Homo sapiens: one gene and its partners. The protein of the gene in region 2 binds, or shares a complex with, the protein of the main gene of each other region. Each region holds a gene or a part of one and is shown on either strand. Other genes may lie near its edges. A codon is read from its position in the direction of its gene.

Region 1 (7,222 bases), on a different chromosome or scaffold from region 2:
CAGGACAGGGCAAAGGCTGGTTCAAAACACCACTGTCACTGGTGCCAAAATGTCCTCTATTAATCAGAGCAGCAGCTTTGCTGTCTTCACTGCAGGTTCTTGTGTGATGGAGCTTTCCACATGTCAGTCCTGCCTCTGGCCCAGCACTGCAAGGCACCGGCTGCTTCCTGCAGATCAATGTCTTTGACAAAGCCCTTCAGCCTCGAAGGGGTGTGCACCCTGCAGAGGCAGCACTGCAGACGGCTGGGAGGCAGGAGACAGTGCGGAAGCTAAGAGCAAAGGCTTGGCGTAGGCCCAGCTGGTGTGACCTCTGGCCCCCTCAGTCTCACACAACGGAGGTTAAGTGTTGTTCCAGGGGTTAGGTAAGACAGTCCAACCTGGCACTCAGCAAGGCAACTGCTCAGAGAAACTGCCAGGCCTATGACAGCTCGTATGATTACTACAACTTCTTTCTGGGAGGCTTCTGTCAAACCCCACCAGCCCCAGGACACTGGTGACACTGACACCTTCTCCCCCTGTGTGAGATCTGCTGAGAATCACTGGCAATGGAGCCTGAGGTCGTGAAGGGCAGGAAAAGGCTGGCACCACCCCTCTCCGGGAACAGAAGCCCATCTTCTCATCTGAAATGGGCCTGAGACATGCTCCTGAAAGCAGATGCCAGGAGGAAAACTGCCAACAGCGCAAGCAGAAAGGTGGAACCAGTCAATGAGGGCGGCGGCCCCTCAGAAAGGGGAGGCAAGGTCCTTCCTGGACGCCCAGGGATGGCTCCTGCACCTGGAGGCTGAGCACCTGACCACATAGGAAAGAAAGGGGTAGCTCTAAATGACCCCATTTCTACCAGGCCTTGCCCTGCTCCCACCTCACACCTCTCTCCAAGCTCCCATCCCTAAATCCCCCCGTCTCCAGCAGTACCTCCTCTGCCAGCCATTGAAGGCCTGCTGCTCGCTGGCTGGTCCTGGACTCCTGTTGGGTGGGGGGGCCTACGCTGGGAGCTGCTCCTCTACTGGGGTGAAGGGGCCGGCAGGATCTTCACACCAACCCTGGCAACATGCTAGAGGTGCAGGGCCCAAGCCTTGGGGTGGGGGACATGATGTGGCTGGGTCACTGTTGGCCCCGGCACCATTACCTGCAGCAGCACACGCCGCACATCGGCCTCGGCGTGCTCGGCATTCAGCTGGCCCAGCAGGAGCTCTGCGGACAGCCGCTGGGCCACGAAGTTGGTCACTCGGTTGCCATCATAGCCGTTGAAGACCCCATACAGGAAGCAGTTGTTCTCACTCCTGGAAGAGGGAGAGGGCAGAGGGAGGCCTGAGACCAGGGTCTCACGGAGGTGGAGGGAGAAAGGGAAAGGAATTGGGGGAGACTAAAGCGACAGCAGCTGCAGCTTCAGGGGCCCTCCTGGGTCCCCCTGCTTTAGCCATCATTTCACTCTGGCTATGACATTCTGGGATACCCTCCTCCCCATGCTCACGCTACCCCATCAGAGCAGGCCCTTGGCAAGACAGCAGCAGAGGCCACCTCTCACGGGCCACATGTCACTGGCAAGCCCATACGAGAAAGCTGCAAGGTCGGTGTCTTTCCTTGCTTGCAAACCAACCAACTCCCCGGGCCCAACACAGAAATGCTGGCACACACACCTGAACTTGAGCCAGCTGTCCTCTGGCGGGTGGCTCTCAGTGCCCTTGCCATCAGCAGAGTAGCTGCGGTTGGAGGCTGAGCCAACCCCAGAGAGGTGGCAGAGAGGCAGGTCATCTGTCCAGCTTGGCTGCTGCTCCTGGGGAAGGACACCAGGAAGCCGTGAGACGCCACCGCGTCTGCAGGGTAGTCCCCACTTCACCTATTCCTTCTGCAACAAAAACCTAGCAGGCCCGCAGCCCTACACAGAGGGTTCCACTTCCTTCTGGAAAACAATAATGTTTGTATGAACAGACACCTGCAGAAGGGTTTGCTGTTTTTATGGCTAGTCTACAAACTTGTTTCCCAGGAAAACTGAGACTCCACCATTCCCAAATGTAAGGCGCAGCAATGACCTCCAGGAGTGAGCCGTTATGAAACCTAGTGAAACACACACAAATGTCGCAGACTCTTGGCAGGAAACTCTGGGGACCCCACCTCTTACTGCACTGGCTCCAAATGCACACTACAAAGAAATCCCTTGAGCATTGGTTACCAACACTGCAGGCTGCAGGCCCCACCCTCAGAATGACTGATCTGGGCAGGGCCCGGGACATCTGCAGTGCAGGCCGCTCCCCATGGGTGATGCTTTCAGGTGACCTAAGACCCAGCCTGGAGAAACTCCGACTTATAAGCTAGCCTCAGTCACTCTCTCTGGCACTGGGACCTCCAAGTACCAGGGAGAGTAACTGAGACTGGCTTTTAAGTCGGAGTTTATGAGCTAGTTTATAGGACATCCTCATGCCACCCCGATGTCCTCTCCCATCTCCCCTGCCACATCCTTCCCTCCCAGTCCCAAATGCCTACAGCCCTGTCCATCCCCTGCTCTTTGCCTCCACATGAACACCCTCCCTCTTCTTCCCTACCAATTCTCCGGGTCCTTCGGGACTCTTTGGCTCAGGAGTCACCACCTCCAGGAGGTCTTCCTTCAGGATGACCCTACCCAGGACTGGCTGATGGCCCTCTCATGTACCCCAACGGCACCCTGATTCCAGCATCCCTGCCTGTCTGCAATGCCCATTCTACCCCATAGGATCTCAAACCAGGCTGTTCAGCATAATCACTGCAGAGCTTTAAACACGCTCACACAGCGGTCCAGGCCCTGGCCCCATCCCCGGCCTAAACACAATTTCTGAATTTCCCAGATCTCCCTAGGGTACATCCTGAGCATCTGTACTTTTTAAGCCCCAGGAACAACTTTGATGCAAGGCCCAGGTGCAATTCCCTGCCTCTCCCTGAAAGCTTGCCCCAAATCTGGCCTCCCACCTGAAAACTGCGCTTTGTTCACAACGGCACTCCCAGAACCACCATGCAGAACTACAGCAAACTGGAATAACTGGGAGAACCACAGTTCAATTTCAAGGAAAATAAAATTTGTATTGGCTGGGTGCAGTGGCTCACGCCCGTAATCCCAGCACTTTGGGAAGCTGAGGTGGGTGGACCATTTGATGTCAGAAATTTGAGACCGGCCTAGCCAACCTGGTGAAACCCCATCTCTGTCTCTGTTAAAAACACAAAAAAATTAGCCAGGCATGGTGGTGCATGCCTGTAATCCCAGCTACTGGGGAGGCTGAGGCAGGAGAATCGCTTAAACCCAGGAGTCGGAGGTTGCAGCGAGCTGAGATCATGCCACTGCACTCTAGCCTGGGCGACAAGAGTGAGATTCTGTCTCAAAAAAAAAAAAATTGTATTGAAAGCTTTATTGAAATATTAAACAAACACAAGCTAGAGCAACCAGATAAGAGAAAGAAATAGAGGGCATCCAAACTGGCAAGGAAGATGTTAAATGATCCTTGTTTGCAGACGATATAATCTTATATTTGGAAAAACCTAGATTCCACCAAAAAACTATTAGAACTGATTAAACAAATTCAGTAAAGTGGCAGGATATGGGCCGGGCGCGGTGGCTCAAGCCTGTAATCCCAGCACTTTGGGAGGCTGAGGCAGGTGGATCATGAGGTCAGAAGATCGAGACCATCCTGGCTAACATGGTGAAACCCTATCTCTACTAAAAATACAAAAAACTAGCCGGGTGTGGTGGCGGGCGCCTGTAGTCCCAGCTACTCTGGAGGCTGAGGCAGGAGAATGGCATGAACCCGGGAGGCGGAGCTTGCAGTGAGCCGAGATCGTGCAACTGCACTCCAGCCTGGGTGACAGAGCGAGACTCCATCTCAAAAAAAGACTCCATCTCAAAAAAAAAAAAAAAAAAAAAAGTTGCAGGATATGGAATCAACATACAAAAATCAGTAGCATTTCTATATGCCAACAGTGAATCATCTGTAAAAGAAATAAAACACACACAGATACTGTGTGCAACTTCTTAAAAGTTATTGTTAAGTCTTCCAGAAAGGATGTGGAAACCACTTCAACAGGCTTTTGCAATCATATATATAAAAAGCCTGTGGTTAGCTTTTGTGGCAAATTGTAGCTTCTGTTTAGTTATATACTGACAGGAGTGACTTCACTTTTTTTCATATAATTGGTTTTATTCTGCTTTTATCTATTTTGGTGCTTCAGCTCTACATTTTGCACCCTGGAGCAACTTCTGCAGGGTGTGGGAGTTTGTTTTATTTTTACATTAACATGGAGTAAAACTGGCTTCTGGGGCACGCACATCTGTGAATGTTGACACATGTAGAGATGTGTGTAACTACCACCACTCTCAGGATACAGGGCAGCTCCACTCCCAACGCACTCCCTCCCCTAATCCCTGGCAACCTATTTTCCACTGCTATGGCTTTGTCTTTTTAAGAATGTCATATTAAACGCCAGGTGCAGTGGCTCACGCCTGTAATCCCAGCACTTTAGGAGGCCAAGAGGGGCTCATCACTTGAGGCCAGGAATTTGAGACCAGCCTGGCCAATGTGGCGAAACCCTGTCTCTACTGAAAATACAAAAATCAGCCGGGCGTGGTGGCGCACACCTGTAATTCCAGCTACTCAAGAGGCTGAGGCACGAGAATCACCTGAACCTGAGAGGCAGAGGTTGCCATGAGCCGAGATTGCACACCACTGCACTCCAGCCTGGGCGACGGAGTGAGACTCTGTCTCCAAACAAAACAAAACAAAACAAAACAATGTCACACAATGTCACATAAATGAAATGATGCAGTAAACATGACCTCCTGAGACTGGCTTCTTTCACTCAACATTATGTCTCTAAGACTCATCCAAGTTGTTAGCCTGTGTGCATCAACAGTCTCTCTCTCTCTTTCATAGAGTAATATACCATTGTTCGGATGTAGTAAAGTTTGTTTATCCATTCATCCACTGAAGGACATTTGGGCTGTTTCGTTTCTTATAACTATGAAGAAATATGCTATAAACATTCATGTACAGGTTTTTGTATGAATGTAACTTTTCATTTATCCAGGGTAAATACCTAGGAGTGACAGGGCTGGCTCATATGGTAAGTATATGTTTAACTTTATAAGAACCTGCCAAACTGTTTTCCAGAGCAGCTGAACCATTTGCATTTCCAATGTTGAGTTCCGGCTGCTCCACGTCCTTGCCACCATGTGGTATTGTCTTTTTCTGAATTTAGATATTCTAAGAGGTGGGTAGTGGTAGCTCATCGTGACTTTAATCTGCACTTCCTAACGGCTAACGACACTGAGTATCTTTCACGTGTTTATTTGGCACCAACTCATCCTCTTTGGTGAAGTGCAAGTTTTTTGCCTATTTTTAAATTAGGTTATTTTCTTAACTATTGTGTTCTGAGAGTTCTTTTTATTTGTAACTTAGCATTTCACTCAGTAGTGTCTTTTGCAGAGCAAAGGTTTTAGTTTAGATGAAGTCCATTTAATCCATTTTTTCTCTTTCATGGTTCATGCTTTTGGAGTCATGTTTAAGAACTCTCTGTCCAGTCCCAAGTTACAAAGAGCACCTATGTTTTTTTCTAAAAGTTTTATAGTTTTATATTTTACATTTAGATCTGTGATCCATTTTGAATTAATTTCTGTGTAAGGTAGGAAGGAGGTTTAGGTCCATTTTTTTTTTCATTCCAATATCCAATCATTCCAACACCATTTGTTGAAAAGACTAGCTTTTCTCCATTGAATTGTGTGGGTCTACTTCTAGACTCTATTCTGTTCCTGTGATCGATGTGTCTACCCCTCCACCAATACTACATTCTTGATTACTGTAGCTTTATAGTAAGTCTTTAAATTGGCTAGTGTGAGTCTCCTTATCTTCTTGCTCTTTTTCAAAATTGTTTTGGCTATTTGAGTTCCTTTGCCTTTTCATATAAATTTTAGAATCAGCTTACTTATATCCACAAGTCTTGTTGGGATTTTTATTGGAACTGCTTTAAATCTACAGATCAATTTGGGGAAAGTAGACATTGTCACTATGTTGAGTCTTCTAATCCATTAACATGGTGTGTCTCTACACTTATTTATGTCTTCACTGGGTGACTTTTATTTATTTATTTTTATTAACACAATTTTACTACAAGGTCTGAAAAGCTACTAACGCCTTCTAATAGCCTTTGAAAATAGACAGTATAACCAAACCCTACTAATGGAAATGAAAAAAAAAAGGAAGATGAAATGGCAGTAAGTGCTAGCTGAGCCAAGTATGTCACAACTAAATTAAAAAAAAAAAAAAGTAGAAATGGCAACAATTCTGCTCAGCTCCTCATGACACCAGGCTTAAATTTAACACTTTCAGTACAAGCAACGCCAAAAGAAAAACTGCTGACCTGGCACAGTGGCTCACGCCTGTAATCCCAGCACTTGGGGAGGCTGAGGCAGGTGGATCACTTGAGGTCAGGAGTTTGAGACTAGCCTGGGCAATGTGGCAAAATCCTGTCTCTACTAAAAATACAAAAATTAGCCAGGCGTGGTGGTGCGCACCTGTAATTCCAACTACTCAGGAGGCTGAGGCAGGAGAATCACTTGAATGCAGGAGGTGGAGGTTGCAGTGAGCTGAGATCACACCACTGCACTCCAGCCTGGATGACAGAGTGAGACTCAGTCTCAAAAAGAAGAAGAAAAACGGCTTCACAGTAACACAAAATTGGGTCTAGTTCTAATCTTGAACTGTTTCATTTTAAAGCAAAATTAATGCCTCTCTTAACATAAATGGGAACTTAGGTCTTCCGGACCCACATATGATATTATGTGATTACAGTACATTAAATCACTACATACATTCTTTCAATAAATATCTGCTGAGCATTTGCAACAGTCTGGCAGTATTCTGGGTACTGCGGACACAGAAGAGAAAACAGAGAGGCTCCTTATTTGAAGCCTCCCTTCTAGGGAGAGAGAGAATTCAAACACACAATACAATAATAAGGCAATCTCAGACAGCGCTACGTGCTAGGAAGAAAACACACCATGGTAATGGGACACAGCGTGATGGGCGGTGGGGGCCTCTAGATGAAGTGGTCAGAAAAGCAGACCTCTCTGGGGAGGTGACGTCTGAGCCAGACCTGAATGACTATGGGGCAGTGACCTTCTAGAAGGCAGAGAAGGAGGCTTCCAGGCAGAGGGAGCGGAACGTAAAAAGACCCTAAGATGGAAAAAAGCATGTCAGGTTTACGG
Region 2 (9,840 bases):
TAAACATTTGGACCTTTCAAGAAAGGTAGCTTGGTGAAGTTTTTCACCTTCAAACTATGTCCCAGTCAGGGCTCTGCTACTAATTAGCTATAATCTTTGCACAAATTACATCACCTTTGAGTCTCAGTTGCCTCACCTGTAAAATGAAAGAACTGGATACTCTCTAAGGTCACTTCCAGCCCTGTCATTCTATAACTCTGTTATGCTGAGGAAGAAATTCACATTGTGTTAACTGTATGAGTCAAACTGAAAATGATTATTGAAGTGGGAAAAAGCCAATTGCTTCTCTTAGAAAGCTCAACTAAATTTGAGAAGAATAATCTTTTCAATTTTTTAAGAATTTAAATATTTTTAAGGGTTTGACCTATTTATTTAGAGATGGGGTCTCACTCTGTCACCCAGACTGGAGTACAGTGGCACAATCATAGCTCACTGCTGCCTCAAATTCATGGGCTCAAGTGATCCTCCTGCCTCTGCCTCCAGAGTAGCTGCGACTATGGGCATGTGCCACCACGCCTGGCTAACATTTGTATTGACCTATTTATTTATTGTGATTTATATCTTTTTTTTTTTTTGAGACAGAGTTTTGCTCTTGTTGCCCAGGCTGGAGTGCAATGGCACGATCTTCGCTCACCACAACCTCCGCCTCCTGGGTTCAAGCGATTCTCCTGCCTCAGCCTCCCAAGTAGCTGGGATTACAGGCATGAGCCACCACGCCCAGCTAATTTTGTATTTTTAGTAGAGACGGGGTTTCTCCATGTTGGTCAGGCTGGTCTCGACCTCCCGACCTCAGGTGATCTGCCCGCCTCGGCCTCCCAAAGTGCTGGGATTACAGGCATGAGCCACCGCGCCCAGCTGATTTATATCTTATCTATGAGAAACACCAAAAACTATGAGTAAGCATCACTGAGTTATCATGTAAGAATTTTTTCTAAGTTTTAGCCCAAATTTCCAGGTCAAGACAAACCCACAGAGAGGTAAAAGGGTATTAGGATGGGAGTTCATATTTACAGCAGGAACTTTACATACATGGTCTCCTTGAGCTCTTGCAACCTTGTAAGATAAGTATTATTTTCCTTTCACAGATGAATAAACTGCTACCCTTTTTTTAACAAGTAGATTTGACTAAAAAGAACTATGTCAAATATTGCTTCCCATTTTCTTATTTCTTTTTTTTTTTTTTTTGAGACAGAGTCTTGCTCTGTTGCCCAGGCTGGAGTGCAGTGGCGAGATCTCGGCTCACTGCAAGCTCTGCCTCCCGGGTTCACACCATTCTCCTGCCTCAGCCTCCCGAGTAGCTGGGACTACAGGCGCCCGCCACCACGCCCGGCTAATTTTCTGTTTTTTAGTAGAGACGGGGTTTCACCGTGTTAGCCAGGATGGTCTCGATCTCCTGACCTCGTGATCCACCTGCCTCAGCCTCCCAAAGTGCTGGGATTACAGGCGTGAGCCACTGAGCCCAGCCCCATTTTATTTCATTTCTCTAACAGCAATGATATATATACATCCCATAGTATATCCTACTGATATACTAGCCCCTTTCCCCATTCAACACCTGTGTAATCAGGAAATAAAACAATGATTCGGGTTTAAAGGGTATATCATGTGAAACTAATGCTGGGGCGGTAGTCTCCATTCATAGTTCAAAATACAAATTTTATCCACTAAAATGGAAACACAAAAAACAACTACTGAAATGTAAATAATATAACAACAAAAATAACAAAATATCATAATACACAGGGCCAAATCACATTATATACACTCACTACACCCACTCTACCCTACCTTAGCCCGTAATCAAAGGGACAGGGGAAAAAACCAAATGTAGCAGGAAAGGCAATATAAAGCTATTAATTAATTAACTGGAATTTAGTTTGTAAATGCTAAAACCAGTTCTCAAAAATTAAGACAATGCTTTTGATCAGCAGACTAAATTATTACAAATAAAGATAAGTACTTATTGCAAAACTACTTGAATCTTTGCATGACTAAAATGTAAAATAAGTGGTGACTTGAAATCCTAGAGTGAACTTTATACAGAAAAGGAATAGTCTACATGTAGACACTGAGAACTCTTGGGAGGGGGAAAAGATTTGGATATGGCTATAGTTTTGACTTTGCAAATGATCAATTTTTGCGGAATTAGATGGAAAAGATCCGGTGCTTTTTATAGTTCAAACACAGACAAATGCTGTTAAGTCTCCAAAAATTTGATTAGAAGTTGGAGTGCTGAGTGATTTTAAGAACCTGAAGCAACAGCATTTCTAAACAATTCTTAAAATAAACTTGTTAGCCACATCAGCGTTGTGCATTAAATTTCACAACTCATGGAGAGGAAGAAAAAAAGTCTTGCTTAACTCTAAACATACAAGTTTTAGAAGAATTTTAATGAAGTGCGGCTCCCAGAACAGGAAAAGCCTTATGTTAAAACAATTCAGTCCTTGAGTCCTTGGCTAACAACTAGATTGAACTACCTACCTGACTTGGAAGTGAAGTGTCCTGGAAAACATATTTTAAAAATTTTAACACTTTTCTCCCCTTGTAGAAAACTTTAAATTTAAAGTCTAGACTATACAGACCAAATTCAAGTTAATGACTATATAACCAAACTAAGTGGCAGACAGTGCAAAGGTGAAGAACTGAGGATTTACATACTAAAACAGAAACAGGGCAGTCATTATTTAATTTTTAAAACTCTCATTTAAATTTGCAATGTTTTAGCCGGGCGTGGTGGCTCAAGCCTGTAATCCCAGCACTTTGGGAGGGCAAGGCGAGTGGATCTCTTGAGGTCAGGAGTTTGATACCAGCCTGGCCAACATGGTGAAACCCCGTCTCTACTAAAAATAAAAAAAAATTAGTCGGGCATGGTGGCACCTGCCTGTAATTCCAGCTACTCAGGAAGCTGAGGCACGAGAATCGCTTGAACCCAGAAGGCGGAGGTTGCAGTGAGCAGAGATCACTCCACTGCACTCCAGCCTGGGTGACAAGCAAGACTCCATCTCAAAAAGAAAATTAAATAAATAAAATAAATTTGCAATGTTTTAAATGAATATCACTTAAAGTAGTAATCAACAGAAGTTAGGAGAACATAACAATACTCTTTCTCTTAGAAAGTACAACAAAAATATAATTTTTTACAGTTTTACTCTCAAACTTTCCTCTGTAGTAACATGCCTTACTCACCTCTACAATAGGTTTGTTGTGAGAATCTTGTAATGTAAACCCTGGACGTTCTATGAAGCATTTTTAAACTTCTAGTTTATACCCTACTGATTCTTATTCAAGTGTTTTTTAAAAAATATTTAAACAACTATTCTTCTTTTCTTGCCAATATTTTTATAATTTCCAAGAGGTTTTAAGGATCTTGAGAGAACATTTATTTCAGAAGTATCTACTACTATTACTAGCCAAGAAAACAAATGTAGGTAGAGGAAAGACTTAACATTTTGTCCTATATACATCTTAATCATCCTAACGGTAAAAACTCACATGAAACTTTAAGATACAAGATGATATGAGAATCTCAACATGGAAAGCTGTCACTATAACTACAAGCAGTGTACAAACATGCTTCTACTTTTACCTACATAAGCTGACAGATGTTTAAAATACTGAGTTAACAAAGATCTTTTAGTAAAGTGACTTAGGCAGGCTTAAACTAGCAAGGATTAAGGATGAATCCTTACTAATTAATTGGAAGATCTGAGACATATTTTATATTTCATTTTACAAAATCAGAAATACTTATTTTGAAACAAGATAAGACATGGTCTACCTGTCAAAAAACTACCACTCAGAAATATTTTTCATCCACAAAGCAGGAAAAACATAAAATCATTTACATTTCACATTGGCACCAAAAAGGTTAACTGCCCTGCCTTCTTGGATTAGAAAAACTAAAGCTGAGTGATAAGTAGTTTTGCAGGCGTTTGAACATGCCTAAGCCTTTAAATCAGCAAAATACTTTCTAAAAATTCTGATTACAAAAGTAATACATACTTATAAAAAATTCGAACAGAACAAAATGAAAAAAGTAGAAAGTGAAAAGGCCCCTATAAAACCCCTCTGGGGCCCCTCCCCCAATCCCCCCCTCCCCGAAGAGAAACCACATTTAACAGTTTGGTGTATATCTTTCCAAATCTTTTGTTCTATGCATATTAAAAACATACATACTTTGATCTGGCTCAGACTATACATAGTGTTTTGCCACTTGCATTTTACACTTAACATATCTTTGACATCTTTCCATGTCAGTACATGTTGGCTCGATAGTATTCTATCATTAAATACGCTTTCAAAAATGGCAAATCACTTTAAAAAAATAATTCGCACAAGTACGTGTTTATAACTTTAAAAGAAAATGGACAGAATCCTAAAACACAACAACCAACCTCTAAAAACAATCTCTATCTTTCCACCAGCATGGAACAATTTATTCCTTTTTCACACAAAACAAATTATGTGATTGGGGAGATTAACTCTAATCTCCACATTTATATACAGAAAGCTCCATTTGTTAAGCCTATCTGAAAAGAATAAAAAATCCAGATGATTAATTCACTTACACTTAGAAATTAAATCAGTATACTATGAATACACATTGTGTTCAGTTATAGTATGATGCTTCTTATTCTTAGTCTATGGTTTCAATTAAATAACAGTAAAAAAAATGGATAATACAGCTAATACCCTGAAAAATCAAGAAATTCAAAGATTATATTGCCAACTAAAACACTGCCATGTACATTTTTTTTCCTACTTGGTAGCAAATGCTAATGGAATTCAATCCTGATTACTTAAAGTCAGTTCACATCACACATTCAATCAGGGTAATAAGAACAACATAACATGCCTACTATAGAGTTAGATTAAGACATAAAAATTTTTTGCTTGAAAGTAATGACTGTGTAGCACATGGGACACTTGTCAACTGCTTCAGCACATTGTTTACAAGTGACTAGATGTCCACAAGGAACAAAAACGATAGCAATATTTCTATCCATACAGATTTTGCAAAGCTTCTCCTCTTGCAGGCGCCTTAGCTGCTCTTCAGTACTAATCTCTGCAAAAAGAGAAAATAATTATGCTAGTTTTAGACTCTCTTAGTTGTTTAAATTCATTGAAAACATTTATTGAGCCCCTACTACGTGCCAAGCACCCAACAAGTGCCGGGAGATATGAGGATGACTCACCCGTGGCATCTGCTCTTAAATAGCTCACACGCTAGTGGGAGAGGATGTAAGATGAGGCTAGGAGGTTAAGCACAAAGTACAAAGTGATAAGTGCTATAATAAAGTTATGTACAAAGTGCTCTGGGACAAGATGAGAAAACAAGTTCTTCTGCTCAGGCTAGTTGGAGAAGGCTTCACAGGTTGGCAGTGGCTGGATCGGGGGAGGAGGGAAGTGGAGGAGTGACATTTAAGCATGGACAGTCATTTGCCAGGCAGAAAAACAAGGGTTAGGTAAAAGGAGCAGCATATGGAAAGGTCACGACTAATTCCAGAAATAGAGGGATGGATTTGAGGGACACTTCTGAAGTGGGACAAGTAGGATTGGGTGACTGACTGGATATGAGGGCTGAAGAAGAAAGACAAACTAAAGTTGATTACAAGATTGCTAGCTTGGCTGACAAGGATATGGTGATGCCAATAAGAAATATAAAAGGAGGTACAGGTTTGGGATCTTCAGATATTTTTGAGGTGTTTTCAGGACACCCATATAAAAATAACCAGTAGGCAACTGAAGAGTCAAATCTTGAGGTCAGGAGAAGTCAGGGCTAGAGATAGAGATCTGGATGTCATCAGCATATAGGTGGCACTGAAGTACTTGCTTAATTCAGCCTTTCCCAAAATAGTTTTGTGAAATGTGAATAAATATGCCACAAAACATGTGTTTCATGGTCACATATAACAATAATGACAACAGCAGCAGCAGTTACCAGTAATATTGCATAAATAGTACGTGCTAGGCACTATTCCAAATGCATTACATATTTTAACTATACCTTTGTGATCACAACTATTTATTTATTTTAGCATCTTTATAATCATTATGTACCAGTGGTTTCCAAATATGGCCTCACATGAGAATAACCTGGGGCATTTTTAAACCACGGATTTCTGGGCTCCATTCACAGAATCTAAAATTTCTGGGGTTGGGCACACTGGCGTTTGAGAACCACTGTCATCCAGGACAGGGCAGTACAGTACAATATAGGACAGTATAGTCTATGTTCCCTCTTAGAAATGTACAAGGCATTTCCCTATTTAACTATGGGGTTCCTTTTTCATGGCATCCTTTTAACATCCTGCTGAACACTATTCTGAAAACATGTTTGGAAAACAATAGTTTATTCAAGAAATACTTACTGGACACTTAACTAGGTTCTAGGTACTAGGGATACAATTAACAAATACATAAACCTCAGGCCCCCAATAGTTCATAGACAAGTAAAGAACACAAGCAAACAGGAAAGTATAAATGGTATGATGACAAAGGTAATTACAATGTGTTATGAAGAGCACAGGAAGGGTGTGTGTGCGTGTGTGTGCATGCATGCATAAACGAAGGCCTCCTGGAGGAAATTATACCTAAAACTGGGTACAAAAGAATGAATTAGGAGTTTACTAGGAGAAGGAGGCCTTGGGGGATAAGGGCAATGGGAGAAAAGTGTTTTAGGCAAAGGAAACAGCATAAACAAGCTCCAAGGAGAGAGACAGAACGTGGCCTACAAGTGCACAGGCAAAGCTTGGGCACAGAATTTGAGAAAATAGCATGAGATGAGGCTACAAAAGGGTGCCTGATCATGAAAGATTAGGCGAGCCACGTAAAGGAGTTTGGACTTGATCCCAAGGGTCCTGGGAGGCAGTGAAGGGTTTTAAACTAGAGACAGATATGATCACATCTATGTCTCAGAAAGGTTTCTCTGGCTAGGGGGTAGAGGAAAGGATTGTTTAATCTCTTTCTTCTTAAAAAGTACCCTCTTGGGCATAATAAAAACTATAGGCTCAAACATGGAATGCATCAGAGATAAGAAGATAAAGCACTTACCCTTAAGAAGCTTGGTCTAATGGGCAGGGCAGAAACCAGTCCCAAAATAGTGTAAAAAGCAAAATGCTCAGCCAGGCCTGGTGGCTCACGCCTGTAATCCCAGCACTTTGGGAGGCTGAGGCGGGCAGATCATTTGAGGTCAGGAGTTCAAGACTAGCCTGGCCAACATGGTGAAACCCCATCTCTACTAAAAATACACACAAAAAAAATTAGCTGGGTGTGGTGGCGCATGCCTGTAATCCCAGCTACTCGGGAGGCTGAGGCAGCAGAATCGCTTGAACCTGAGAGATAGAGGTTGCAGTGAGCTGAGATTGTGTGCCACTGCACTCCAGCCTGGGCGACAGAGCGAGACCCTGTCTCAAGAAAAACAAAACAAAACAAAATAAAACAAAACAAAACTCTACCAGCACCAGGAGTAGATAAGAAGGAGCTCCTAACTCTGCTGTGGGTGCGGGAGAAAACTTGAAAGAAGTGACTTCTGAGCTGAACCTTGAAACATGAGTTCACAAAGTAGATTCAGGGAGTTGGGGGTAGAGTGGGGAATGGGACTAGGTATACAGATAGAGAAAACGTACTCAAGGCAGAGGAAAAAATACAAGTAAAGAAACGGCACTATAAGCTGATTTATATTATAAGAAAGCATCAACACCAAAAAAAGTCAGAATGAAGTGTGTATTTCATGCCAAAAAAATCAAAAGGAGAACAAGTAATTTCCACATTACTTTTAGATGTAATGCTACAACGAGTTAAAAACAAACAAACAGGCTGGGCGCGGTGGCTCACGCCTATAATCCCAGCTCTCAGGGAGGCAGAGGCGGGAGGATAGCTTGAGCCCAGGAGTTCGAGACCTGCCTGAGCAATATAGTGAGACCCCGTTCTCCACAAAAAGGAAGAAACAAACAAACAAACAAAGCAACAACAATACTGACACCTAGAGTAGTCAAATTTATAGAGACAAAAAGTAAAATGGTAGTTGCCAGGGGTTGGGAAGAGAGGGAATGGGGAGTTGTTTAATGAACATGTTTTTATTATTATTATTATTTTTTAAAGATAGGGTCTTGCTCTGTATCCCAGGCTGGAGAGCAGTGGTGCAATCACAGCTCATTGCAGCCTTGAGCTCCTGGTCTCAAGCAATCCTCCTGCCTCAGCCTCCCAAGCAGCTGGAACTACAGGCGTGTGCCACCACGCCTGGCTGTTTAATGGATGTAGAGTTTCGGTTTTGCAAGATGAAGAGTTCTGGAGGTTGACTGTGCAACAATGTAAATGTACTTAACACTACGGAACCATACACTAAAAATGGTTAAGATGGTAAACTGTATGTGTATTTTATCACAATTTTTTAAAATCTAAAAAAAACAAAAAACAAAACAAAAAAAAAAACTGAAACAAACCCCAAAACACTGGACCAGAAGTCAGGAAATCTGAATTCTATTCCCAACTATCGGCGTGATCCTAGGCAACAGCCCATCTGTACTTCAGGTTCCCAATTAAGGTCATAAAAGTTATAAAATGGGCTGGGTGCAGTGGTTCATGCCTGTAATCCCAGCACTTTATGAGGCCGAGGCGGGCAGATCACCTGAGGTTGGAAGTTGGAGACCGGCCTGACCAACATGGAGAAACCCCGTCTCTACTAAAAATACAAAATTAACAGGGTGTGGTGGCACATGCCTATAATCCCAGCTACTCAGGAGGCTGAGGCAGGAGAATTGCTTGAACCCGGGAGGTGGAGGTTGCAGTGAGCCAAGATTGCACCATTGCATTCCAGCCTGGGCAACAAAAGTGAAACTCCGTCTCCAAAAAAAAAAAAAAAAAAAAAAAATTATAAAATAATCTTTAAGGTTCCTTTGGTTCTGATTGTTTGTGATACCATATCATCTCATTTTTTTCTATATTATTTCATCCTTGTATAAAGCCACTAACTTGAGATGGTGATATTCTGGGCATAGATCTTTTCCCCTCAGACCAGTAGTTTACCACTGGCAATTACTTCCCTCTTGGCTTAAAGGTAACTACTGGATTCTACATACTTCTCTACAGCGCCTTTCCCCTTCTCCTCCCCACAAAGCCCTCTTCTAGGTCAGAAGGTTACTGGCACATGAGCAATAAAGGCTAGATAACTTTTGATGTTATTTGCTAATATTTGTAATTATTTAAAACCTCTTCTAGAATAAACTGATGTTATTCATTTTACTATTAGAGCAGATTCATATGGAAAGACAGATAAGAAATGAATATGGGTTATTTGATTTTTATATTATATACAGTAATATATATACACATAAAGATTAAAATAAGTACTTTAGTACATATACTAAATAAAGGGCTTTATCTTACACTACATAATTTTTTCAAAGAAAGAAAAAAAGATACTGATTCGGTACTATTTTTACAAGACCTTTTACTAGGGCATTCTCTGTTACACAGCCATTGGCAAAAAAGTTTAGCACTAAATCTAGGATTTCTCAGTAAGTGACAATGTTATATTTTCTCTAATAACCCTCACCTGCTTCACTTCAGTTAGCCCCATCCTTATTTTATATAAAATTAAAAGATTCTTAGTGCCAGTCTTTCCTCATCAGCTTTTGGGAAGACAAATAGGCAGCAGTCCCAGCATGAGTAGAGAGCCTGTATCAATTACTTGCCTCTCAATTTAGTGAGACTGAGGAGAGTTCAAATGAATTCCAACCCTTAGGCTCTCCTTCCCACACCATCCTAGTTTGTAGTCTCAGTGATAATATGAGCGCCCATTGACTCCTGTTAGATAGAGAAAAGACACTCTCCCTAATG
Region 3 (9,150 bases), on a different chromosome or scaffold from region 2:
TTCAAAGTAGTTATTCTTTGTTTTCCATACAATTAAAAGTAATTCTTTCTGTTCCAAGGAATGACATCTCGGTCTGGTACAGATGTCGATGCAGCAAACCTCAGGGAAACATTCAGAAACTTGAAATATGAAGTCAGGAATAAAAATGATCTTACACGTGAAGAAATTGTGGAATTGATGCGTGATGGTAAGAAGAAACAATTAGAATGAACTTCATTGTACAATTAATTTTATACTATGGTCTAGCAATAATTATATGTATAATAAAATATGAGAATTGTGGAATTATACTGTACATAACCCTAATCTTACATACTTTAGTAAGAAGTTTAAAAAAAGTTATTTATGCCAACTTCCTAAAATGGTTTGAGATGTGTTGCCGTGCCCCAGGTTAGGTTAAGATGACCTCTTAGTTTTAGTCTCAGTTTCTTCATCATGTTCCCATACAGTATATCTGAAGTTGTTGAATAAAGTCATGGATTTTTTTTCCTTTTATTTGCAAATGTCTTTACAGTTTCTAAAGAAGATCACAGCAAAAGGAGCAGTTTTGTTTGTGTGCTTCTGAGCCATGGTGAAGAAGGAATAATTTTTGGAACAAATGGACCTGTTGACCTGAAAAAAATAACAAACTTTTTCAGAGGGGATCGTTGTAGAAGTCTAACTGGAAAACCCAAACTTTTCATTATTCAGGTAATGTCTAACTGAGTGATTTGGTTATTGACGATTAAGCAGGGGTTACTATTCTCAACTGTAAATTATCCAAAGGATAATTTTTTTCCTGAAGCTAATGAACTATTGTTACTTTTCATTTATTTACCACTTAAAAGATATAGAGTAAATTTTAATTTTATACTTATATCAAAAAGACTCAGCATAATTAACATCCTTTTTTTTTTTTTTTTTTTTTTTTTTAGACAGAGTCTTGCTCTGTCGCCCAGGCTGGAGTACAGTGGCGCGATCTCCGCTCACTGCAAGCTCTGCCTCCTGGGTTCACGCCATTCTCCTGCCTCAGCCTCCTGAGTAGCTGGGACTACAGGCGCCTGCCACCAGGCCCAGCTAATTTTTAAATTTTTTTTTAATAGAGACAGGGTTTCACCATGTTAGCCAGGATGGTCTCGATCTCCTGACCTCAAGTCATCCGCCCGCCTTGGCCTCCCAAATTGCTGGGATTAAAGGCGTGAGCCACCGCGCCCGGCCAATTAACATCCATTTTTACATAGCATTTCAATTTTTTAGAACTAAGTTATGTGTTCACACACAAATTTTTATAAATAAATATTTATTTTCTAACACCCAGGCCTGCCGTGGTACAGAACTGGACTGTGGCATTGAGACAGACAGTGGTGTTGATGATGACATGGCGTGTCATAAAATACCAGTGGAGGCCGACTTCTTGTATGCATACTCCACAGCACCTGGTGAGAACGTTACACATAATGAATGTTACATGTGGATTTTAAATGAATTAACTGTGACTGATCATAGAATTATACAATGAAAAGTGTGTTTCAGAGACTGTCAAGATTTTGATATCCCTAAAGATATCAAAACTTGTCTATATTTTAGGGAACCTTCATCAAAGAGAAGTCTCAAAAAGTTGTCTTTAGCCAAAAGTTTGGCTAGAAAATATGCATATATAGCCAGGCACAGTGACTCACGCCTGTAATCCTAGCGCTTTGGGAGGCCGAGGCAGGTGGATCACTTGAGGTCAGGAGTTCAAAACCAGCCTGGCCAACCTCATCTCTACTAAAAATACAGAAAAATTAGCTGGGCATGGTGGCACACGCCTGTAATCCCAGCTACTGGGGAGGCTGAGGCAGGAGAATCGCTTGAACCTGGGAAGCAAAGGTTGCAGTGAGCCAAGATCGCACCACTGCACTTCAGCCTGGGCGACAGAGTGAGACTCCGTCTCAAAGGAAAAAAAGAAAAGAAAATATGCATATGTAGAGTAGACTAGCACGATGTCATTCATTGGACTTTATCAGGTAGATCTCCGCTACTAATATCAGGTAGAATATTACGTGGCAACAGAGGCCAAGTCAGAGCTTCCCCTGCATCTTAGAGAAGAAGAGAGGTACGTTTCTCAGGAGTTATTTGAAAGGTAGTAAATAAAAAAGATAAACATGACTAGTATACAAGAGGATAGATGTGGAGTGGGAGAAAAGAAGGTAAAAAACGATACATGAATGTGCCGTTAACCTCCACGTTTTTACTGTTCTGCTGCACACGTCATCATCTAAATAAACATTTGTGGATTATACCACCATTTACTCACACAGCTAAGGGTGTCGGAGAGTTTGGAAACTTTAGGTAAATGTATTCTTAAGCAGTGTTGCATTTTAAAATATGCTCAATATGGTTTATCTTATCCTCTAGGCATCTTTCCAAGCAAAGTACCTCTAAGTTAAAAGCAATGGGTCTAATAGTTAACCTAGAAAAAAAAGTATGATAAATATACTATTTTCCCTTTTTGGACCAATACTTGGTAGTGTGTTTATTATACTTTATTCAGATGCTCTGTAGACAAGTAGGACACTCAAAGCAATTTGTTTCTTGGCTAAGTCAGTATTAAAATAAGGTGAAATCTGATTGGAACACTGTGCTACTTACAATGATCCTTTTTATACATCTTTACTTTTGCATCTTACCTTCTGCGTGTTTGCTCTTCTTGCCTATTGAAAGGGGAGTCCAGAAAGTAAAACTTTCAATAATTCAGTGTTCGTGAAGCTGGTCCCCGGCCAGCTTTGCTGAAAGCAGGGGGTGTACGCATAGCACACATTCGTCCTTCAGCATCATTTCTTCTGAAACCAAAGGTGTCTTTTTTTTTTTATTTGTATGACTAATAAGACTTATGTAAGTTTATGCTTATTTTTGCCTTTATGACTACATAATAATTTATAGAATCAACTAAAATCAGCTATCCATGGTATTTTGCTTGTATTTTGCCTTTTAGGTTATTATTCTTGGCGAAATTCAAAGGATGGCTCCTGGTTCATCCAGTCGCTTTGTGCCATGCTGAAACAGTATGCCGACAAGCTTGAATTTATGCACATTCTTACCCGGGTTAACCGAAAGGTGGCAACAGAATTTGAGTCCTTTTCCTTTGACGCTACTTTTCATGCAAAGAAACAGATTCCATGTATTGTTTCCATGCTCACAAAAGAACTCTATTTTTATCACTAAAGAAATGGTTGGTTGGTGGTTTTTTTTAGTTTGTATGCCAAGTGAGAAGATGGTATATTTGGTACTGTATTTCCCTCTCATTTTGACCTACTCTCATGCTGCAGAGGGTACTTTAAGACATACTCCTTCCATCAAATAGAACCACTATGAAGCTACCTCAAACTTCCAGTCAGGTAGTTGCAATTGAATTAAATTAGGAATAAATAAAAATGGATACTGGTGCAGTCATTATGAGAGGCAATGATTGTTAATTTACAGCTTTCATGATTAGCAAGTTACAGTGATGCTGTGCTATGAATTTTCAAGTAATTGTGAAAAAGTTAAACATTGAAGTAATGAATTTTTATGATATTCCCCCCACTTAAGACTGTGTATTCTAGTTTTGTCAAACTGTAGAAATGATGATGTGGAAGAACTTAGGCATCTGTGGGCATGGTCAAAGGCTCAAACCTTTATTTTAGAATTGATATACACGGATGACTTAACTGCATTTTTAGACCATTTATCTGGGATTATGGTTTTGTGATGTTTGTCCTGAACACTTTTGTTGTAAAAAAATAATAATAATGTTTAATATTGAGAAAGAAACTAATATTTTATGTGAGAGAAAGTGTGAGCAAACTAACTTGACTTTTAAGGCTAAAACTTAACATTCATAGAGGGGTGGAGTTTTAACTGTAAGGTGCTACAATGCCCCTGGATCTACCAGCATAAATATCTTCTGATTTGTCCCTATGCATATCAGTTGAGCTTCATATACCAGCAATATATCTGAAGAGCTATTATATAAAAACCCCAAACTGTTGATTATTAGCCAGGTAATGTGAATAAATTCTATAGGAACATATGAAAATACAACTTAAATAATAAACAGTGGAATATAAGGAAAGCAATAAATGAATGGGCTGAGCTGCCTGTAACTTGAGAGTAGATGGTTTGAGCCTGAGCAGAGACATGACTCAGCCTGTTCCATGAAGGCAGAGCCATGGACCACGCAGGAAGGGCCTACAGCCCATTTCTCCATACGCACTGGTATGTGTGGATGATGCTGCCAGGGCGCCATCGCCAAGTAAGAAAGTGAAGCAAATCAGAAACTTGTGAAGTGGAAATGTTCTAAAGGTGGTGAGGCAATAAAAATCATAGTACTCTTTGTAGCAAAATTCTTAAGTATGTTATTTTCTGTTGAAGTTTACAATCAAAGGAAAATAGTAATGTTTTATACTGTTTACTGAAAGAAAAAGACCTATGAGCACATAGGACTCTAGACGGCATCCAGCCGGAGGCCAGAGCTGAGCCCTCAGCCCGGGAGGCAGGCTCCAGGCCTCAGCAGGTGCGGAGCCGTCACTGCACCAAGTCTCACTGGCTGTCAGTATGACATTTCACGGGAGATTTCTTGTTGCTCAAAAAATGAGCTCGCATTTGTCAATGACAGTTTCTTTTTTCTTACTAGACCTGTAACTTTTGTAAATACACATAGCATGTAATGGTATCTTAAAGTGTGTTTCTATGTGACAATTTTGTACAAATTTGTTATTTTCCATTTTTATTTCAAAATATACATTCAAACTTAAAATTACCAATGTCTTTGAGTTTTTTGTTGCTGTTGTTTTTGATGTTGTGCCACTAATTGGAAGTTAAAATGTTTTTAATCAGAAGCTTGATTTGGAAGAGTCAAAGAGGAAGCACCAGAACCCTAGCCTAGTTTTTTGAGGTGGTGGCAGTTAGATCAGGGCAGACAGATCGCTTATGCTTCCCAAGTCCTCGCAGAAGTTCCTGACCCTGAAATGACCACAATGCCAGGAAGATACTTTGTTTGCATAGATCTCAGGCCTTAAATATGACCATATGTGTGAATTTGAAACTTTTTCCACAAGATAAGTGTCTAATGGGAAGAACAACCTAAGAGGATATACAACAAGCCGTTGATGTTTACTGATGGCCTCCTCTGGGCGCTGGGATTTTGACAGAGGAATTTGCTGTCTTTTTACTTCATATGCTTAGAAAAGGAATATAGGAAAGTGGGGTTGTGGGTGGTTTTAAATTTCTTCCAATATTTCTGTAATGAAAATATATTACTTTTAAATCAGAAACAAAATAAATTGTCCTAACTAGGAAAAGGAGACTTCTGTTTCTGAGGAGTAGAGAGTAGCATAAATGAGTTCTTTAAGGCCATATGAAAGCGGTGGTTCTATAGTGTTGAGGAAAATCTGGCTTATTCTAGTCTCCCTGTTAAGTAAAGAGGTTTCAGATACAAAGGAAAAGACCAGCAACCCAATAGGAAAATGAGCCAAGGACATGAACAAACAGTTCACAGAAAAAAGAAAACCCAAATGTCCCTTAAATTCAATAAACAGCTTGATCTGCATCATAATAAGAGAAATGCACATTAAAGTATCTGTCGTCTATCAGACCGGCAAAAACCCCAGTTTGGTGACATATTCTGTTGGCAAGATGTGGGAAATGTATACTCTCCCGTTGGTGGGAGTATGATACGGTAAAATACTCTGTGGAGGGGAATCTGACAATACCTATCAAATTATTCTTTGAAGTAGCAGTCCCATTTCTTGGAATCCAGCCTACCCATACACCTGTGTGTGTACAAAATTATATATGAGCTTTTCATCACAACGTTGTTTTGGTGTTAAAAAATGGCAGCAACTCAGCTGTGAAGTGTTCCGGGAAGTCAGGGACCCCGAACGGAGGGACCTGCTGAGGCTCTGACAGAGGAACATAAATTGTGAAGATTTCATGAACCTTTATCACTTCCCCAGTCAATACTCTTGTGGTTTCCTATGCCTGTTTTTGCTTTGATCTCTTGGTCCCGTCATCTTCGTAAGCTGAGGATGTCTGTCGCCTCAGGACCCTGTGATGATTGTGTTACCTGCACAAATTGTTCATAGGGCATGTGTGTTTGAACAGTGTGAAATCTGGGCACCTTAAGAATAGGATAATAGCGATTTTTCAGGGAACAAAGGAAATAGCCTTAAAGTCTGGCTGCCTGTGGGCCGGGCAGAACAGAGCCATATTTCTCTTATTACCAAAAATGGGTAAGAGAAATATCACTGAATTCTTTCTCCAGTAAGGAATATTAATAATTAACAGCCCTGGGAAAAGAATGCATTCTGGGGAGGGGAGGGGGCCTCTGAAATGGCCGCTCTGGGGGTGTCTGCCTTATGCAGTTGCAGATAAGGGATGAAACACACCCTGGCCTCCTGCAACGCCCCCAGGCTTGCTAGGATTAGGAAATTCCAGCCTGGCAAATTCTAGTCAGACCAGTTCTCTGCTCTTGAACCCTGTTAAGATGTTTATCAATGACAATGTGAGCACAGTGGGACATAGAAGTTCATTAGTGATTCCAGTTTTGCCCTGACCTTGTGATCTCACCCTGACCTTCTGCCTTGTGATCTTTCGTCACCCTTGAAGCATGTGATCTCTGTGACCCACACCTTATTTGTACACTCCCTCCCCTTTGAAAATTGCTAATAAAAACTTGCTGGTTTTACGGCTCAGGGGGCATCACGGAACCTGCCGACATGTGATGTCTCCCCCGGACACCCAGCTTTAAAATTTCTCTCTTGTACTCTTTCCCTTTATTTCTAGACCGGCCAACACTTAGAGAAATAGAAAAGAACCTATGTGAAATATCGGGGGCTGGTTTCCCCTGATAGTGAAGGAGACAGGTTAGATACACTGGAGCTTCCACACAGGAGAGAGGGAAGGAGCTGGAGAAGAAGGTGAGTTGGAAGATTTGGGGGTTTTGTTTTTAAGTGAGAGAGCTTTGAATAGGTTTAATGCTGATGGTGGGGATCCAGTTAAGAGAAACACTGAAAATTAACTAGAGGGAAAGGTAACTGACAGTATAGAGTTCCTAAGAACCCAAGCAGTAAATTCTAGCCTAGCTGGGGGTGGAGTGTGAAGAAGTGAAGAACCTTTTTTATTTTTTTTTTAATGGGCTGGGTGTGAAGCTACATTTGTAGTTTTGTGGCAGGAAGTTCCCTTACTGTAACTTCTATATTTTCTGTGAAGCAGAAGACAAGAACTCTGTTCAAAGTTAGGGAGATGATAGATTGAGGGCTAGAAGAGTAAGGCAGGCTTGAAACAATCATTGTCACGAATGGGAGTTGACCAGAGATTAGTAACGTTGCTGGGCCATGTGTAGGGGCCCATTTGAAACCAGCGATTACAAATGTGCAGTGGTTCCAGGCCGTGCGGCTGTGTGAATCTACCTGATGACCCTCGGCTGCTTGGGTACTGCCATGGATAGCGCATGTGTTGGCTTTGTCCAGCTTTGGGCTTTTTCCCACATTGATTTTAAAAAGACAGGAGCCACAGATTTTGGAGTACTGCAAAATGACTTTCCAAATTGATGAACCATGGACTCCAAGCTGGATAGACACAGAAATGAAAAGAAGGGACTAATAGGGAATAAGACGTGTGATCCATGGCCCGATGGCCCTGATGGACGTGAAGATCCACTGTTGTGGGAGGAGTGGAACACTAACACTGAATGATGGAGGCTGTGGTCAGAAACAGGTAAGTGATGGAGGCTGTGGTCAGAAACAGGTCAATGATGGAGGCTGTGGTCAGAAACAGGTCAATGATGGAGGCTGTGGTCAGAAACAGGTCAGTGATGGAGGCTGTGGTCAGAAACAGGTCAGTGATGGAGGCTGTGGTCAGAAACAGGTCAGTGATGGAGGCTGTGGACAGAAACAGGTCAGTGATGGAGGCTGTGGTCAGAAACAGGTCAGTGATGGAGGCTGTGGTCAGAAACAGGTCAGTGATGGAGGCCGTGGTCAGAAACAGGTTGAATTGGAGGGGCACACATTTGGTCATGAAAATGGTGGGACTAAGAAGAATGAAGTGGCATGCAAGAGACCATTATAGAAATGATGTGGAACTCAGGGTGAGGATGTTGGGTGTGTGCTCTTCTGTATGGACATTGACTTTATGCTAAAATGAGATTCACTATGTGGGAACAGTAATAAAATAATGTGGCTGGGCGTGGTGGCTCACACCTGTAATCCCAACACTTTGGGAGGCTGAGGCGGGCGGATAGCAAGGTCAGAGTTTGAGACCAGCCTGGCCAACATGGTGAAACACATCTGTACTAAAAATACAAAAATTAGCCGGGCATGGTGGTGGGCACCTGTAATCACAGCTACTGGAGAGGCTGAGGCAGGAGAATTGCTTGAATCCGGGAAGTAGAGGTTGCAGTGAGCCAAGACCATGCCTTTGCACTCCAGCCTGGGCGACAGAGCGAGACTCTGTCTCAAAAAAAAAGATAAGGTGACATAACTTAGTTGTGTTTACAAACTTTTGATTTTATGGATTTGAAAAAAATCCATCATTCATTTTTGCCAGATTTTTTAAAGCTATCACCCATTATTCATAACAAGAAAGACATTTTAACTCCCACCTCCTCATTTCCCTCTCAACCCCAAAATAAGTAGGGACATAATCCCAGATTAAAGGATAATACTTCCAAGGAAAGGCTTGTCACACATGCACACACACACATTCCTCAGGATCTAACATTTTGCAAGTTGAAACCGCATTCGGGAAGCAATACTCTAATCCACTAAAATAAAATTTCACTTAACACTTGAAATAAACTTGAACTCAAAAAATTTCTCTCCTTGGTGAGACTCAGGCAGTGAGAAGCAGCTGTGACTAGAAATGGCACTGATCTGTCCGTTAGAAACTTTTTAATAAAACATGCTTGTTGTGCCCTTTATTATGTCATCATTATCAGTAAGATGTCAGAACTTTCCATAGATTAAATAAATACTCCAATTTAAGTCATTTCTTTTCAGATTTGTCTGAATTTCAGTTGATCCAGAGCAAGAAAAAGTAAGTGTTCACATGTGAAAGTCTGTGGGTCCATTGCATAGACAATTAAGAAATAATAGATAACAGATTCAAGTCAAATGCAGTACGCATGTGGGTGTGTGGCCTAGGATATTTGGA

Evidence for each region.
Region 1: the proteins of XIAP (region 2) and TAB1 are in contact, whole or in part, in a crystal structure (PDB 2POP), measured with the Homo sapiens proteins. Residues at the interface, in NP_001158.2 of Homo sapiens: Phe33, Ala34, Ser38, Gly39, Pro41, Ser43, Ala44, Ser45, Thr46, Arg49, Tyr75, Ser78, Ala79, Val80, Gly81, Arg84, Phe92, Ile93, Gly95, Tyr97, Leu98; in NP_006107.1 of Homo sapiens: Glu99 (codon at 1,156), Ala100 (codon at 1,153), Arg103 (codon at 1,144), Thr201, Gln202, Leu203, Glu212, Asp213, Phe216, Arg217, Gln220, Arg241, Glu269, Glu271, Ile272, His273, Ala275, Gln276, Pro277.
Region 3: the proteins of XIAP (region 2) and CASP3 are in contact, whole or in part, in a crystal structure (PDB 1I3O), measured with the Homo sapiens proteins. Residues at the interface, in NP_001158.2 of Homo sapiens: Ala137, Leu140, Leu141, Gly144, Gln145, Val146, Val147, Asp148, Ile149, Ser150, Asp151, Thr152, Ile153, Tyr154, Asn226, Leu231, Gly232, Arg233, Asn234; in NP_001341706.1 of Homo sapiens: Tyr204, Trp206, Arg207, Asn208, Ser209, Lys210, Asp211, Trp214, Gln217, Lys242, Thr245, Glu246, Phe247, Glu248, Ser249, Phe250, Phe252, Thr255, Phe256.

Annotation. Positions count from the first base shown.
Region 1 is NC_000022.11:39,409,558-39,416,779, reverse strand, and holds part of TAB1 (TGF-beta-activated kinase 1 and MAP3K7-binding protein 1), read right to left. Parts: intron 1,775-7,222; coding exon 1,638-1,774; intron 1,281-1,637; coding exon 1,127-1,280; intron 1-1,126. UniProt on the Homo sapiens protein: Key adapter protein that plays an essential role in JNK and NF-kappa-B activation and proinflammatory cytokines production in response to stimulation with TLRs and cytokines.
Region 2 is NC_000023.11:123,902,213-123,912,052, reverse strand, and holds part of XIAP (E3 ubiquitin-protein ligase XIAP), read right to left. Parts: intron 5,066-9,840; coding exon 4,872-5,065; 3' UTR 1-4,871.
Region 3 is NC_000004.12:184,623,305-184,632,454, reverse strand, and holds the end of CASP3 (caspase-3 isoform a preproprotein), read left to right. Parts: intron 1-58; coding exon 59-187; intron 188-514; coding exon 515-690; intron 691-1,297; coding exon 1,298-1,418; intron 1,419-2,953; coding exon 2,954-3,183; 3' UTR 3,184-4,759; downstream 4,760-9,150. UniProt on the Homo sapiens protein: Thiol protease that acts as a major effector caspase involved in the execution phase of apoptosis. Following cleavage and activation by initiator caspases (CASP8, CASP9 and/or CASP10), mediates execution of apoptosis by catalyzing cleavage of many proteins.